Regions from separate parts of the Homo sapiens genome. Here region 2 is linked to region 1. The links come from fine-mapping of genetic effects on gene expression. A gene starts in region 1. The other region holds a variant in brackets. All regions are shown on one strand. Distances are from middle to middle.

The links. PIP is the estimated chance that this variant, and not a neighbour inherited with it, causes the effect.
Region 2: its variant is fine-mapped to the expression of MTCH1 in whole blood (TOPMed, PIP above 0.99).

Annotation. Positions count from the first base shown.
Region 1 is chr6:36,984,525-36,987,423 of GRCh38, forward strand. MTCH1 (mitochondrial carrier 1) reads right to left here and starts at 1,672. Exons shown (of 12, transcript NM_001271641.2): 1 at 1,329-1,672. The coding sequence starts at 1,649. RefSeq lists enhancers at 1,226-1,948, 2,067-2,276 and a silencer at 1,387-1,976.
Region 2 is chr6:36,962,841-36,965,718 of GRCh38, forward strand. PI16 (peptidase inhibitor 16) reads left to right here. Exons shown (of 7, transcript NM_153370.3): 5 at 95-772; 6 at 983-1,122; 7 at 1,546-1,997. The coding sequence ends at 1,104. Among named protein-coding and RNA genes, the nearest start is that of PI16, 9.5 kb to the left of the region's middle. RefSeq lists enhancers at 180-805, 806-1,430. The variant A/G (reference allele first, on the strand shown) is at 1,204.

The DNA.
Region 1 (2,899 bases):
TATAAAGATGGTAAAATCTGACACCCACCTGCCTCAACTCAAATCTTGGATGGGTCTCCAATTCAATTTTTACCTTCCTCCCCCCAAGCTTCTTAACTGGAAAATTCTGGCCTAATGACCCCCATCAAAACTGTACCCATCCCAGCCACACCCACCTAATTCTCACACCTCCACACGCCCTTCATTCCAGCTCACTCCTCAAGCAGCACACTTCATCTGTACCGCATTGCTGGCCACCACCAAATCTGCCAAGTGCCTATGCATCCCTCTGTTCCAGAGACATCCCTACCTCGGTCTCAATTTCTGGTAGTCCCTACCTATCCTGCCACCTATGTCTCCACTGTCCCTTCTGCCCAATTTCAATACTCCCGTGCCCCTTCTCCTCATCTGCCCAGATACAAGCACTGTGATTCCTCTCTCTGACCCCAACTATGACTTCCATTTCCTCCTCCAAATGCGTCATCCCCCTTCCCCGCTTAAAGCCTCCTCCTAGCTCCCCTCTCTAGACAAATCGCTGCCACTCCCCTCCCCCAATGCTGGCCCTATCTGTTCCCCTCCCCCCATACGCGTCACCCTGTCCCCTCCTCCTACCAAATCCGTCGTCGCCATCAAATCCAGAGCCCCCATCTCCGGTAAACCGATAGCATTCCCCTGCAAAAGTCTTTGCCTTCGCACTCTCCCACCAAATTAAATCACAATGCAACCCAAGACCTCCGTCTCCTCTGTCCACCCCCAGTCTGGTGTCCTTCTTTCCCTCCTAAATTTCTGGCCCTGGCGCCCACTTTGTCCCCACCCCAAGACGTTTTAAATCCATCTCTATCAAATCCAGAGCCTCCGTTCCCCTCTACCCCAATTATGTGCTCCTCATTCTCTAAACACTTTGCCTGGGCCCCCAACCTTCCTCCCCATCTCTTCACCCAAACTTCTTGCCCCTCCCCCAATTCTATTGCTTCTTCCCTCGCCCCAAATTCGCTCCCTTCCCTATCCCAAGTCCATCGTCCCCACTCCTTTATCTCCCAAATATGTTTTTCCAGCCCATCGCTCCCTCCTTGGCACTCCCCCAAATCGCTTGTTCCTTCCACCCTCTCCCGTATCTGTTATTACTCTAACCCCTTGGTCTCCTTTCTGTATCCTAAAACCCGTGACCCCTGCGTTCCCAACTCCCTCACGGCTTCCCTCCCATCCCACCCACTCGGCCCCCCAAACCCGCCGTCCCCACCCCTCTCCCCAAATCCGTCGCCATTGACTGCCCGCCCCAATCCTCCAAATCCTGGCCTGTCACCTTCACATCAGCCTCCCATCTCCCTACGGCGCCTCTGGTCCCCCACCTGGATGAGCAGCTTCACGTAGAGCAGGGGATGGCTGAGCGCCGTCACGCCCGCGCCCAGTGCCACGAAAAGAGCCTCAGTGGTCGGGGCGTTGTCCCCAGACCCCAGGCCCCCTGACCCGCCATCCATCCTGCGGGCCGAGGGCTGAGCCGCAGGCCGAGGGTGGCGAGGATGTGCGCGGTGCGCGGGCGGTGGATCGCGAGCTCGAGCCTCGACCCCCGCCGCCGCTCCGCCGCGAGCTCCGGCTCCAGCTCCGGCTCCCGCCATCCCCGCGGCACCGCCGCGAGCCCAGGGCGCCACTTCCGGGTCCGAAGCTCCCATGGCGCCCGGCGGCGAGGTCACTCCCCGTCACGTGACGGGGCCACGCCCCCTCACCGGCGTCAGGGGGCGGGGCCGGGGCGCACCACTCCAGGCCGCGGGGGAGCTCGGGAGCGTGGTGCGGCGGGTGGGACACGCCGGATGTGGCTCCCCGGCCGGTTGGAGGCCTAGCAGGACACTGGGCTGCGGGCCGGGGGTCAATGGTGGCGGGCAGCCGGGGCCCCGGGCTCGGGAGCTGTGGCGGCAGCCGCAGGCCGGGGCGCTCCCCCGGGATGCCCAGAGCACGCGGGGGCGGGGTTCGGCGCCTCTGGCTGCCAGACGTCCCCAATATGGTCTGAGGCGCTTCCAAGCCACCTCCCTGGCTTCGGGAGTTTTCTCTGCAGTTCTCTGCCCGCCCCTTTGCGGCCCAGATCCCAGTCGCCGCGGCCTGCGTGGAACTCTGCGCGAGCTGAATCTCCTGCTGCAGGACGAGCCCCGACCCCGAGCCCGATCCCCTCCGCGGTCCCAGCCTCTTTGTCCGATCGCATTTTCCATCTCCTCTGCCAGGAATGCTCTCCCAACCAGAGCAAATCCAGATGTCCCCTCGGCGACTGTGGGCACCCTCCCCAGCTGTGGAGCCTTCGCACGCCTTCCTCAGAGTCCGTGGTTGTAAAATTTGTTTTGCTCTAAAGTATTTGACTGTCTCCCTCACTAGATCCTGAGGGTTTTAGTGAGTGCCTCAGTGTGAGCACATGCAGGCACTGCTAGGCGCCTGTAGTTGATTCTTAGTTAATACAAGTGAATAATCACAACTAGACCTTAAATTGCAGGGACTATGTGACAGGCACTTTTTAAAATGCTTTATACGTGTTGATTTAAGTGTAATCGTCACAAGAACCCTGCGAGGAAGATAGGACAGCAAGTGCCCTGTTCCTGTTTGTAAACGTGCCCGACACTCTGCAACAACACCTACAACAGAACCGTGCTAGTTTTGGGGGTTCGCAATAAAAGTTTCTGTTTGAACGGATCCTAGAGTGTGCAGGGACACAGCAATGGAAGACCTGGTCCCTTTGTCTGTACTTAGTCTATAGCCAGTTCATTGTGAGAAATTTCTTTAGATCGACACCTGCCACTGTTAGTCCGGGTTTCCCAGTCTGTCCTTTCTAACTCCCTTCCTGCCTTACCCCCTAAAAAGCTACCTCCCCTCTTCCCACTCCTGATAATGAACACTATGTACTTTCCACGTTCAAAGCATGCCACACTCCCTCTCTCCC
Region 2 (2,878 bases), 22 kb before region 1:
TAGGACATTTGGTCGCGTCACTTGGTTTGCAGTGCCATGAGAGATGTGGGGTCCTGCTTGCAGCACTCATGCCCGTTCTCGTCTGTCTTATCAGAACCCATCGGAAGCCCGGAAGATGCTCAGGATTTGCCTTACCTGGTAACTGAGGCCCCATCCTTCCGGGCGACTGAAGCATCAGACTCTAGGAAAATGGGTACTCCTTCTTCCCTAGCAACGGGGATTCCGGCTTTCTTGGTAACAGAGGTCTCAGGCTCCCTGGCAACCAAGGCTCTGCCTGCTGTGGAAACCCAGGCCCCAACTTCCTTAGCAACGAAAGACCCGCCCTCCATGGCAACAGAGGCTCCACCTTGCGTAACAACTGAGGTCCCTTCCATTTTGGCAGCTCACAGCCTGCCCTCCTTGGATGAGGAGCCAGTTACCTTCCCCAAATCGACCCATGTTCCTATCCCAAAATCAGCAGACAAAGTGACAGACAAAACAAAAGTGCCCTCTAGGAGCCCAGAGAACTCTCTGGACCCCAAGATGTCCCTGACAGGGGCAAGGGAACTCCTACCCCATGCCCAGGAGGAGGCTGAGGCTGAGGCTGAGTTGCCTCCTTCCAGTGAGGTCTTGGCCTCAGTTTTTCCAGCCCAGGACAAGCCAGGTGAGCTGCAGGCCACACTGGACCACACGGGGCACACCTCCTCCAAGTCCCTGCCCAATTTCCCCAATACCTCTGCCACCGCTAATGCCACGGGTGGGCGTGCCCTGGCTCTGCAGTCGTCCTTGCCAGGTAAGGCCCATAGCATCTGTCCCACTTTCCTCCTGGCTCTGGAATGTCAGTATCCTGCCCCAGCATAGGTGGTATGAGCATGGTGGGGCATGCACCCTCTGAGTAGGAGCTTCCTCCCTGGCTGCTGCCCCACCTCCTTGCATGGTGGGGTGGGCGGGACATCAGGCACAGCTGTCTCTAGGCTGAGGCAAAGCCTCTTTCTTCCCACAGGTGCAGAGGGCCCTGACAAGCCTAGCGTCGTGTCAGGGCTGAACTCGGGCCCTGGTCATGTGTGGGGCCCTCTCCTGGGACTACTGCTCCTGCCTCCTCTGGTGTTGGCTGGAATCTTCTGAAGGGGATACCACTCAAAGGCAAGGCCTGGTGAGGGGGGCCCTGGCCTCATACCCACCTGGATTGTCTTCCTCCAAGTGAGAGACCACAGCTTCCTGGGC[A/G]GGTCCTGCTCTGTGGCCCAGCAGCCCCCCTTCACCCCAACTTCTGGCCAGATTCCAGGCCAGCACTCTTGTCCTCCTGGGAGGCGTCTACAGGGCCAGCCCCTGGCACTGCCCCAGGAGTGCCTTGGCTCTGGGTAGGCCCATCCTTCAGCTGGCTGCAGACTGTTCTGAGCGGTATTTACATGTGCCCACTCTCAGGTTGTCCTGTGGCCATCAGCTTCTCTCCCAGACAGAGGATCTCAGGCTTCCCAGGAACCCCCGGGCCCCTCCCAGTCCCCTGGCCTCTTCCTTGAGCCATCTGAGTCCAGGACTGTTCCCCAGAAGTGCCTCTTGCCTTCTCAGGGTGAAGAGGTCAGCTGTCCTCCTGTCATCTTCCCCACCCTGTCCCCAGCCCCTAAACAAGATACTTCTTGGTTAAGGCCCTCCGGAAGGGAAAGGCTACGGGGCATGTGCCTCATCACACCATCCATCCTGGAGGCACAAGGCCTGGCTGGCTGCGAGCTCAGGAGGCCGCCTGAGGACTGCACACCGGGCCCACACCTCTCCTGCCCCTCCCTCCTGAGTCCTGGGGGTGGGAGGATTTGAGGGAGCTCACTGCCTACCTGGCCTGGGGCTGTCTGCCCACACAGCATGTGCGCTCTCCCTGAGTGCCTGTGTAGCTGGGGATGGGGATTCCTAGGGGCAGATGAAGGACAAGCCCCACTGGAGTGGGGTTCTTTGAGTGGGGGAGGCAGGGACGAGGGAAGGAAAGTAACTCCTGACTCTCCAATAAAAACCTGTCCAACCTGTGGCAACTATTCCTTCTCTTTCTCATCCCCCTCCTCTAAAACACTCCATTTAGTGTCTCCTCTTTGGGACCCACCCTTCATTTCCTTCCTATAACTCTCGCCTCCCCCTAATCACAGGTGGCAGGCAGGAAGGGGAAGAGCCAAAGGAAGGCCAAGGGTGCTGGGCTGACTCCCCCAGCTTCAGGAGTCACCAGTGGGGCCTAGGTAGGTTTGGAGCCCAGGATCAAAGCATGGCATGCGGCCTCTTCACGGGGGCGCTGCTATCCAGGCCTGTCTGGGACACAAGGTCAGAAATGTACATCAGGCAAGGCTCTGCCAGCCCCAGGTGCTTGGAAGAGTCCTAAGAAAGGGATCTGGAGTCCCAGACCCTCCCCAGGGGAGCAAAGCAGGACTGTCCAGAGGTGCTGAGGATCAGGAAAGCACACATATGCTGGGGTAGCAGTGGTGGATGACTGAGGGTGGCTTGGGTGGTAGGGAGGGGCAGAGCAAGTCTCCAGACCACCGCTGGAAGGTGAGCAGTCAAACAGGACACCACCCAAGTCAGGCCAGGGCTGGGAACCGACCTGTAACCAAGGAGGACACTCCCCTCTTTTACTTTCTTTTTTTTTTTTGAGATAGAGTTTTGCTTTGTCGCCCAGGCTGGAGTGAAGTGATCTCGGCTCACTGCAACCTCCGCCCACCGGGTTCAAGCGATTCTCCTGCCTCAGCCTCCCGAGTAGCTGGGATTATAGGCACCTGCCAACACGCCCAGCTAATTTTTGTATTTTTAGTAGAGACGGGGTTTGGTCAACAGGTGGTCTTGAACTCCTGACCTCAGGTGATCCACCGGCCTCAGCCTCCCAAAGTGCTAGGATTACGGGTGTGAGCCACCACGCCCGGTCTACTCT